Linked DNA regions of Homo sapiens. The protein of the gene in region 3 interacts with the protein of the main gene of each other region in a pairwise test. Each region holds a gene or a part of one and is shown on either strand. Other genes may lie near its edges. The genes, in order: ZNF483, WASHC1 and TRIM69.

Region 1 (3,655 bases), on a different chromosome or scaffold from region 3:
TTCCGAGGGGAAAACAAAAGAGCAAAACAAAATTAAATCTTTATTTATACACTCACACACACAGAGAACCTCCAGTGACTCAGTGACTCTCTATTGCACTGATAATAAAGCAATAAACCACTCTACAGAACTGGAAGGGTCTTTGTGGTGCAGGTTCTGAACTATGGCAACAAGCACTGCAATTGACTCCTACCCTCACCCCACAGAGACACCAAGACAAGTTATAATCAAGCTGCTGAAATCCAAAGACAAAAGGAGAATCTCAAAAGCATCAAGAGAGAAGCAAATCATCACATAAAAGAAATCCTCAGTGAGACTGTTGATTGCTCATCAAAAACCTTGGAAGCCAGAAGGCTGTGGCGTTGTTATACTCTTAATGCAGAAAGAAAAAAAAAAAAACTGTCAACTGAGAATTCTATATACAGCAAAACTGTCCTTCAAACAAGAATTTATCAATAAAAGGAAATTACCTTAACATAATAAAGGTCAAATATGAAAAGACCACAGCTAACATCATACGGAATGATATAAAATAGAAAGCATTTCAGGAAAAGGCACAGATGCCTGCTTTTGCTACTTGTATTCAACACAGTACTGGAAGTCCTAGCTAGAGCCATTGGCAAGTTAAAGCCATCCAAATTAGGAAGAAGGAAAAATTATCTATTTGCAGATGCCATAATCTTATATTTAAAAATCCCAAAAATTTCACAAGAAACTATTATGACTAATAAACAAATTCAGCAAAGTTGCAAGATACAAAATCAACACTCAAAACTCAGTTATGCTTCACTAACAAAGACCCATTTACAACAGCATCAAAAACATAAAATACTCAAGAATAAACTTGACCAAGGAGGCAAAAGACTTGTACAATGACAACTGTAACACATTGCTGAAAAAATTAAAGACGGCACAAATACATGGAAAGACACCTGGGGTTCACAGACTGTAATGTTTGTTATTGTTAGTATGTCCACATTACCCAAAGCGATCTACAAATTCAATGCAAGCCCAATCTTCATGCCATTTTCCACAAAAACAAACAAACCATCCTAAAATTCATTTGAAATCTTAAGGACCCCCAAATAGCCAAAACAATTTGGGAAAGAACAAAGCTGGAGGCCTCACACTTCCTCATTTCAAAAACATACTACAGGAAACGTAGTGTAATCCTGATTACAAAACATTACTGGAGTAATCAAAATAGCATGGTACTGGCATAAAGACAAACATATAGACCAAAGAAACAGAGCAGACAGCCAGAAATAAACATGCATGTATATGGTCAAATGATCTTTGACAAGAGTGCAAAGAATACATGATGTGGAAAGGATAGTCTCTTCAACAGATGGGGCTGGGAAAACTGGATATTCGCATGCAAAAGAATGAAGATGGACCCTTTACCATACATAAAAATCAAAATGGTTAAAAGACTTAAACATAAGACCTGAAACTATAAAACTCCTAGAATAGGAGAAAAGCTTCATGACATTGGATTTGGCCATGGTTTCTTGGGTATGACCAGAAAAGCACAGGAAACAAAAGAAAAAATAGAAAAATTAAACTTCACCAAAATTAAAACCTTCTTTCAAAGGGCATTAGGAATAGAATGAAAAGGCAACCCACACAGAATGGAAGAAAGTATTTGCAAATCATTTATCTGAAAAGTTCTTTATATATTCTGGATATATTAAGAACTTCTACAACTAAACAACAACGCCAACAAAACCAATTAAAAAATGGGCAAAGGACTTCAATAAACATTTCTCCAAAGAAGAGATACAAATGGTCAATAAGCACATAAAAAGACAGTTAACATCACTAATCACTAGGGAAATGCAAAACAAAACTAGAATAAGATGCCACTTCAAACCCATTAGGATGTCTATTATAAAAAAGAAATAGAAAATAAGTGTTAGCAAGGGCGGGGATACTGAAACCCTTGTACATAGCTGGTGGGAATTTAAAATAGTGTAGTTGCACTTCCTCAAGAAGTTAAATATAGAATCATCATAAGATCCAGCAATTCTATTTCTAGGCATATACTTAAAAGAACAGAAAGCACCACTGATTATAGCAATGTTATTCTTGATAGCCAAAATGGTGCAAACAACTTAAATGTTCACTGGCAGATAAAAGGATAAACAAAATGTGGTATACAAGTAAAATGGAATATTATTCAGCCTTAAAAAGGAATTAAATTCTGATATGTGCTACAACACGGCCGAACCTTGAAAACATAATGCTAAGTGGAATAAGCCAAACACAACAGGGCAAATATTGTATGATTCCATTCATACCAAGTAATTAGAACAGTCAAATTTGTACAGACAGGAAGTAGAACAGTGGTTACCAGGAGCCTGAGGAGGAGAAAATGGGGAGTTACTGTTTAAGGAGTACAGAGTTTCAGTTTGGGATGATGAAAAAGTTCTGGAGATGGATAGTGGTGATGACTGCACAAAATGTGCATCTATCTAAATGCTATTGAGCTGTATAACCAAAAAGTGTTTAAATGGTTCATTTTAAGCTATATGTATCTTACTACATTAAAAAATAATTCTAAAATAAATAAAATGACTTTATTGACCAAAACCTTGCCTTGTCCTGTGACATGAAAAAAATTTATACACGCTCATTAAGAGGAAACATTATTTAAAGCAAGGACTTCATTTTAAAGTAAAATGTGTCACAGTGCTCTTCATAAAAGCAATCCTATAATGAATCAAAAGACGTTTAAAGCCTTTTGATAATCTGACTTAATCCAAAAGTGAATTTAAATATTTGGGTGATGGGCCAGACTGAATGTCCTGCAGGCAATTATACAGACTTAACTACTGAAATCAAGACTTTGATAAATATTATCCAACAGAGTTTGGGCTGCTCTCTGTAGCTAGTACATGGTATTTAGAAAGTTCATATTGGATAAAGGACTTATATCCAGAATAAAAAGGACTACAACACAGTATCAGCAAACTCCAATTTTAAATGGACAAAAAATCTGAATAAACATTTCACTAAGATACATGAATGGCTGAAGAGCACATAAAAGATGCTTTGACATTATTCGCCATCAGGAAAATCAAAGTTAAAACCACAAAGGAATATCATTTCAAACGCTAGGATGGGCATAATTTTTAAAAAACAGACAACAATGACTGGCAAGACTGTAGAGAAATGGGAAGCCCCACACATTACTAGTCAGAATGTAAAATAATGCGGTCACTTTGGAAAACAATTTGGCAGTTTCCTAAAAAAGTTAAATGAAAATTTACCGTATGACCTAGCAACTCCCCTCAGGCATCTGCCTAAGAAAAATGAAAACATGTCCACACAAAGACTTGTACACTAACGTTCAAAACACTTGCATACCAATGTTCAAAGCAGCATTATTCCTAACAGGCAAAAACTGGAAAAACCTCAAATGTTCTTCAACTAGTGAATGCACGAAGCATCCACATAATGTAATATTATTTATGATAAAAAGGAATAAAGTACTAGTATGTTACAACATGGATGAACTTAAAACACATTAATGAAAAAAACACAGAAAGATCACATATAACATAAAATGTACAGAAAAAGACAACTCTAGAGACACAAAGTCGACTGAGTAGTGGGTGCCTGGGATTAGAGGTTGGACGGGAGATTAACTGTA
Region 2 (3,655 bases), on a different chromosome or scaffold from region 3:
ATCTTGCATCTTTACCCCCTTTGTGATCTTACATATGGGAGAACTGAGGCACAGAAATAAGTTAGGACAGCCAGCAAACTTGCATCAGTATAAATACAAAGAAGGGGAGGGAGGAACATGCTTGAAAGGGGTGTGCTGGTCTCAGAGGGTTGGGTTTCTCAGTTGGCTGGGCATCAGCTGGCCATGCTTTAGTTATTTGATGGGAGGAAAAATAAGTGGGAGGTGAGGAGTAACTCCTGGGCTCTGATGAGTATTCAAGGCAAGTACAGATCTGGAAAGCCTGTATGCAAAGGAGGAACTCACTGAAAAGTGCTGGCCTGAGGAGGGCAGAAGGGAGGGCTGGGGAAGCCAGCAGCGGGAGCAAAGGAGTAGGCTCCAACTGGGTGAAGATGTTGGTGTGGTGCGTTATGTAAAATATACAAATTATTATTGGAAATAACCACGTCTCAGCAGTGCTAGTTCTCAGTTTGGAGAATGGGAAATCGAAAGGATCAGATTCAGAGACGGCAACTTACTCAAGGTCACAGCATTTTAAACCCAAGTGAAATCTCCTAGGCCCTTCATGCCACACTCATCCATCCATACCTACTTGTGTTGCAACCAAGGGCCCCACTGTAGTGCCTAGGGGAGCAGGTCTAGGGCACAGTGCCAGGCCTGATTAATGTCTTCCTTACCATTTTCCAGTGAGGGGCTGTGATTAGGCCTATTTATAGGGGCCTGGTCCCTTAATATTCTGCCTGGTGCATCTCTTGCCAATCAAATCAGTGCTGTCTGCAGTGTGATTGCTGCTTTAGTGGCACCAGGGAGAGGAGTTAATTAAACCCAATATAAATAGACTCTGCCCTCACTTTGCAATTCCAGGAGTGTTTTTCCTTCCTGTCCTCCACCCCCACAGGCACCTCTTTCCTCTTGTCCCCCTAAGCTCTAGCCTGGGTGAGCAGGGCTGGATACTCCTATACCTAGAGTCACTAGCCACTGCCCAGTCTGTTTCAGGAGCAGGCCTCAGATTCCTCAGGGGTTAAAGTGGGAAGAACCCGTGTGTGCACATTTTTTGTGCTTTTCCAGAACTGTGTACCATTTGGCAGTTGATCAGGCAATCTCCCCTGCTACCCCATTTCTACCCCTTTGTTTCCAGCCTCTTTTTTCCTCTGCAACCAAGGTTTCTTGTTTATCCAAGGTGGGGAGCTGAACTGAGACAAGGTATGGAAAGGGTGCCTGGCAGGTAGCAAGCACCTTGTAGGGGGTCAGAAATGTTGCACCTTCTCTGAACTCCTCCATTGACCCTACAGATTCCCCAGTCCCGGGCCCTGCCCTTTCCCTCATTCACTCAGCAGGCATCAGCAGAGTCCCATCTATGCGCTCCTGGCCTCTCAGCAAATGCTCTGTCCCCTACTCCCCTATCTGTGCAGGCTGAAGCTATGTGCATAGTTGGGATGAGGGCTGTGTTGTCTCAACACCACGCTGCCCTGTGGTGGGGGCGTGCCGTTGGTCGTGGGTGGCTCTGACGCTCCGGCTCCGACCCACAGGCACCATGACTCCTGTGAGGATGCAGCACTCCCTGGCAGGTCAGACCTATGCCGTGCCCTTCATCCAGCCAGACCTGCGGCGAGAGGAGGCCGTCCAGCAGATGGCGGATGCCCTGCAGTACCTGCAGAAGGTCTCTGGAGACATCTTCAGCAGGTGGGTGCTGCCACTCACCCCCACCTGATGAGAGGGCCATCCCTGTCCTGGGCAATCCCAGCAACACACCCTCTGGGAGCAGCCCCCTTGGGGAATCCCGGTCCTGGGGAACCCATCTGGCTTCCCTGTGTGGGAGGGGCTGAAGTGAGAGCCCAACTTGGAAGCTTTTACTCCTGGGAGTCCGAGAGCTCACTCCCTTCCACCCCACTTAGCCTCCTGGTTTCCTGTGGTGGCTCTGCTCTCACAACTCATGCTTTTCCTCCCATTGGAGGGCCTATTCCTTCACGTTTTCCTGCAGCCAACAAATATTTACCCAGCAGTGCTCGTGTGCAAGGCAGTGTGGGAATCTCTATATATCCAGCCACGGATAAGGCAACATACCTCTCCACCTGGAGCGCACATTCTGGCAGGAGAGAAAGACCTAAATAAGCAATAGATGATTAGTTCTTCAATAACAGTTGTGACAAGGTCTATTGATAATATTTTGTAATCACTAATATTCATATAAACCGTGCACAACCATTGATTTGAGTGCATTAACTCACACTTCATGAGCAGGCACTGCCGTCATCTCATTTTATAGATGAGGAAACTGAGGCACAGAAGGGCTGAGAGACCTGGCCTAGTGACAGAGCCAGGATTCAAAGCCATAGATCATGGCCCCGGGTTATGTAGGTTATTACTGCATCTGTTCAGGGGAGATGGGGTACTGTGAGGCTCGTCATGGGAAGCCTGGCTTGGTCTCAGGTCAGGGAAGGCAGATGTGAGGAAATGACATTTATGGTAAAGTCTGAGGGTTGAGTGGGTAGGTTGGGAAGAACATTCCAGAAAGAAGCACATGAACTACAGCCTGGAGGTGGAGGACCTAAAAGGAAGCCAGCATGGCTGGAGCACGGAGTGGCCATTGAGGGAGGCGAGCTGGAGGGCTGCAGCTTCTTGTATTGGCAGTGCTGACCTCGCACAGTCCTTGGGCTCCAGTGACTTCACTCAGTGTTTATCTAACATGAGTGAGTGAATGGTGTTTGCTGTTTTTTTGGTAAAGGTCCCAGGGGTTGTCGGGTACACAGGTCCTGTCTTTGGCCATAAGCAAACTGAAATGAGGCTTGGTCTCCTTCCCAGGATCCCACACCATGTCTCACATGGTAGACCCCAGTGGGAAGTATGTGACTGCCTGACTCAGGTGCCTCTCGTGGTCCAAGCCATCCCTGCCCTGTCCCTTCCCTGGTTGTCGCCAGACCTGGAGCCCCTGCTCCTTCACTTTGCAGCCTCCTCTTCTGTCACCAACTGGGAACCCACCTCTTCCTGAAAGTCCTCCCCCACTGACTCACCGGCTTGCCCCGAGTTTGTCAAGAATGTCTCAGTAACCAGGGGACACACAGTGAAGTGACTGAGGGGTTACCTTGGAGTTGATGCCTTGGCTCAGATCCAGCTCCCCTGTTTTCTTCCTCTGTAACCTTGGGCAACCCAACCCCTCTAAGCCTCGGTGTTCTCATTTGTGAAGTTGTGGTAATAATGGTAGCTTCCTGGTAGAATTATTTTAAATATTAAATTAATCAAAACATGCAAAGGAATGGAACAGTGCCTGGCACCTAGGAAGCCTTCAGGAAATGCTATCTCTTCCCTGTTGATAATCTTGACCCGTACACTGCCTTTGGTTGCCATTCATAAACCTGCCACCAATAGTAACAAAGTGCTGGATGCACCTTTTGTGCTTATCTTTGTGCTAAATGTGCCCGAGGGACACCTAGGGAAGAGGATGCAGGTCTTTAAGAGCCATCAGCTCCAGATTATGGCCACCCCATGTCCAGCACTTAGAATGGAGGCCAAAACCATTCCCTCGGAAATTGTGTTTCCTTGCCAAGATGGGGACTGCGTGGTTGCCCTTCTCTGAGGGCAGCGCTGGATTTTTGGCGTCTTTCCTTTCCTGTCCTGGTACTTGGCACCTTGTAGACAGTTGCATGTCCCCTGCCCAGGG
Region 3 (3,655 bases):
AGGTTAGATAGTTGTAGATATGCGGCATTATTTCTGAGGGCTCTGTTCTGTTCCATTGATCTCTATCTCTGTTTTGGTACCAGTACCATGCTGTTTTGGTTACTGTAGCCTTGTAGTATAGTTTGAAGTCAGGTAGCATGATGCCTCTAGCTTTGTTCTTTTGGCTTAGGATTGACTTGGCGATGCGGGCTCTTTTTTGGTTCCATATGAACTTTAAAGTAGTTTTTTCCAATTCTGTGAAGAAAGTCATTGGTAGCTTGATGGGGATGGCATTGAATCTATAAATTACCTTGGGCAGTATGGCCATTTTCACGATACTGATTCTTCCTATCCATGAGCGTGGAATGTTCTTCCATTTGTTTGTGTCCTCTTTTATTTCATTGAGCAGTGGTTTGTAGTTCTCCTTGAAGAGGTCATTCACGTCCCTTGTAAGTTGGATTCCTAGGTATTTTATTCTCTTTGAAGCAATTGTGAATGGGAGTTCACTCATGATTTGGCTCTCTGTTTGTTATTGGTGTATAAGAATGCTTGTGATTTTTGTACATTGATTTTGTGTCCTGAGACTTTGCTGAAGTTGCTTATCAGCTTAAGGAGATTTTAGGCTGAGACAATGGGGTTTTCTAGATATACAATCATGTCATCTGCAAACAGGGACAATTTGACTTCCTCTTTTCCTAATTGAATACCCTTTATTTCCTTCTCCTGCCTAATTGCCCTAGCCAGAACTTTCAACACTATGTTGAATAGGAGTGGTGAGAGAGGGCATCCCTGTCTTGTGCCAGTTTTCAAAGGGAATGCTTCCAGTTTTTGCCCATTCAGTATGATATTGGCTGTGGGTTTGTCATAGATAGCTCTTATTATTTTGAGATACATCCCATCAATACCTAATTTATTGAGAGTTTTTAGCATGAAGCGTTGTTGAATTTTGTCAAAGGCCTTTTCTGCATCTATTGAGATAATCATGTGGTTTTTGTCTTTGGTTCTGTTTATATGCTGGATTACATTTATTGATTTGCGTATATTGAACCAGCCTTGCATCCCAGGGATGAAGCCCACTTGATCATGGTGGATAAGCTTTTTGATGTGCTGCTGGATTCAGTTTGCCAGTATTTTATTGAGGATTTTTGCATCAATGTTCATCAAGGATATTGGTCTAAAATTCTCTCTTTTGGTTGTGTCTCTGCCCGGCTTTGGTATAAGGATAATGCTGGCCTCATAAAATGAGTTAGGGAGGATTCCCTCTTTTTCTGTTGATTGGAATAGCTTCAGAAGGAATGGTACCAGTTCCTCCTTGTACCTCTGGTAGAATTCGGCTGTGAATCCATCTGGTCCTGGACTCTTTTTGGTTGGTAAGCTATTGATTATTGCCACAATTTCGGAGCCTGTTATTGGTCTATTCAGAGATTCAACTTCTTCCTGGTTTAGTCTTGGGAGGGTGTATGTGTCGAAGAATTTATCCATTTCTTCTAGATTTTCTAGTTTATTTGCATAGAGGTGTTTGTAGTATTCTCTGATGGTAGTTTGTATTTCTGTGGGATCAGTGGTGATATCCCCTTTATCATTCTTTATTGCTTCTATTTGATTCTTCTCTCTTTTCTTCTTTATTAGTCTTGCTAGCAGTCTATCAATTTTGTTGATCCTTTCAAAAAACCAGCTCCTGGATTCATTAACTTTTTGAAGGGTTTATTGTGTCTCTTTTTCCTTCAGTTCTGCTCTGATTTTAGTTATTTCTTGCCTTCTGCTAGCTTTTGAATGTGTTTGCTCTTGCTTTTCTAGTTCTTTTAATTGTGATGTTAGGGTGTCAATTTCGGATCTTTCCTGCTTTCTCTTGTGGGCATTTAGTGCTATAAATTTCCCTCTACACACTGCTTTGAATGTGTCCCAGAGATTCTGGTATGTTGTGTCTTTGTTCTCATTGGTTTCAAAGAACATCTTTATTTCTGCCTTCATTTTGTTAGGTACCCAGTAGTCATTCAGGAGCAGGTTGTTCAGTTTCCATGTAGTTGAGCGGTTTTGAGTGAGTTTCTTAATCCTGAGTTCTAGTTTGATTGCACTGTGGTCTGAGAGACAGTTTGTTATAATTTCTGTTCTTTTACATTTGCTGAGGAGAGCTTTACTTCCAACTATGTGGTCAATTTTGGAATAGGTGTGGTGTGGTGCTGAAAAAAATGTATATTCTGTTGATTTAGGGTGGAGAGTTCTGTAGATGTCTATTAGGTCCGCTTGGTGCAGAGCTGAGTTCAATTCCTGGGTATCCTTGTTAACTTTCTGTCTCGTTGATCTGCCTAATGTTGGCAGTGGGGTGTTAAAATCTCCCATTATTATTGTGTGGGAGTCTAAGTCTCTTTGTAGGTCACTCAGGACTTGCTTTATGAATCTGGGTGCTCCTGTATTGGGTGCATATATATTTAGGATAGTTAGCTCTTCTTGTTGAATTGATCCCTTTACCATTATGTAATGGCCTTCTTTGTCTCTTTTGATCTTTGTTGGTTTAAAGTCTGTTTTATCAGAGACTAGGATTGCAACCCCTGCCTTTTTTTGTTTTCCATTGGCTTGGTAGATCTTCCTCCATCCTTTCATTTTGAGCCTATGTGTGTCTCTGCATGTGAGATGGGTTTCCTGAATACAGCAAGCTCCATCAGCTCCTTTAAGCACTTCTCTGTATTGGTTATTCTAGTTATACATTCATCTAAATTCTTTTCAAAGTTTTTAACTTCTTTGCCTTTGGTTTGAATTTCCTCCTGTAGCTCGGAGTAGTTGGATCATCTGAAGCCTTCTTCTCTCAACTTGTCAAAGTCATTCTCCATCCAGCTTTGTTTTGTTGCTGGTGAGGAACTGCGTTCCTTTGGAGGAAGAGAGGCGCTCTGCTTTTTAGAGTTTCCAGTTTTCCTGCTCTGTTTTTTCCCCATCTTTGCGGTTTTATCTACTTTTGGTCTTTGACGATGGTGATGTACAGATGGGTTTTTGGTATGGATGTCCTTTCTGTTTGTTAGTTTTCCTTCTAACAGACAGGACCCTCAGCTGCAGGTCTATTGGAGTTTGCTAGAGGTCCACTCCAGACCCTGTTTGCCTGGGTATCAGCAGCGGTGGCTGCAGAACAGTGGATTTTCGTGAACCGCGAATGCTGCTGTCGATCATTCCTCTGGAAGTTTTGTCTCAGAGGAGTACCCGGCCATGTGAGGTGTCAGTCTGCCCCTACTTGGGGGTGCCTCCCAGTTAGGCTGCTAGGGGGTCAGGGGTCAGGGACCCACTTGAGGAGGCAGTCTGCCCATTCTCAGATCTCCAGCTGCGTGCTGGGAGAACCACTGCTCTCTTCAAAGCTGTCAGACAGGGACATTTAAGTCTGCAGAGGTTACTGATGTCTTTTTGTTTGTCTGTGCCCTGCCCCCAGAGGTGGAGCCTACAGAGGCAGGCAGGCCTCCTTGAGCTGTGGTGGGCTCCACCCAGTTCGAGCTTCCCGGCTGCTTTGTTTACCTAAGCAAGCCTGGGCAATGGTGGGCGCCCCTCCCACAGCCTCGCTGCCGCCTTGCAGTTTGATCTCAGACTGCTGTGCTAGCAATCAGCGAGACTCCATGGGCGTAGGGCCCTCCGAGCCAGGTGCAGGATATAATCTCCTGGTGCACCGTTCTTTAAGCCCGTCGGAAAAGCACAGTAT

Evidence for each region.
Region 1: the proteins of TRIM69 (region 3) and ZNF483 interact in a two-hybrid assay, tested with the Homo sapiens proteins (one large-scale study listed by BioGRID).
Region 2: the proteins of TRIM69 (region 3) and WASHC1 interact in a two-hybrid assay, tested with the Homo sapiens proteins (one large-scale study listed by BioGRID).

What each region holds. Positions count from the first base shown.
Region 1 is NC_000009.12:111,545,562-111,549,216, reverse strand, and holds part of ZNF483 (zinc finger protein 483), read right to left. Parts: 3' UTR 1-3,655. UniProt on the Homo sapiens protein: May be involved in transcriptional regulation.
Region 2 is NC_000009.12:22,876-26,530, reverse strand, and holds part of WASHC1 (WASH complex subunit 1), read left to right. Parts: exon of another isoform or gene 1-1,200; intron 1,201-1,523; exon of another isoform or gene 1,524-1,526; coding exon of another isoform or gene 1,527-1,531; coding exon 1,532-1,680; exon of another isoform or gene 1,681-3,655. UniProt on the Homo sapiens protein: Acts as a component of the WASH core complex that functions as a nucleation-promoting factor (NPF) at the surface of endosomes, where it recruits and activates the Arp2/3 complex to induce actin polymerization, playing a key role in the fission of tubules that serve as transport intermediates during endosome sorting.
Region 3 is NC_000015.10:44,739,528-44,743,182, reverse strand, and holds part of TRIM69 (E3 ubiquitin-protein ligase TRIM69), read right to left. Parts: intron 1-3,655.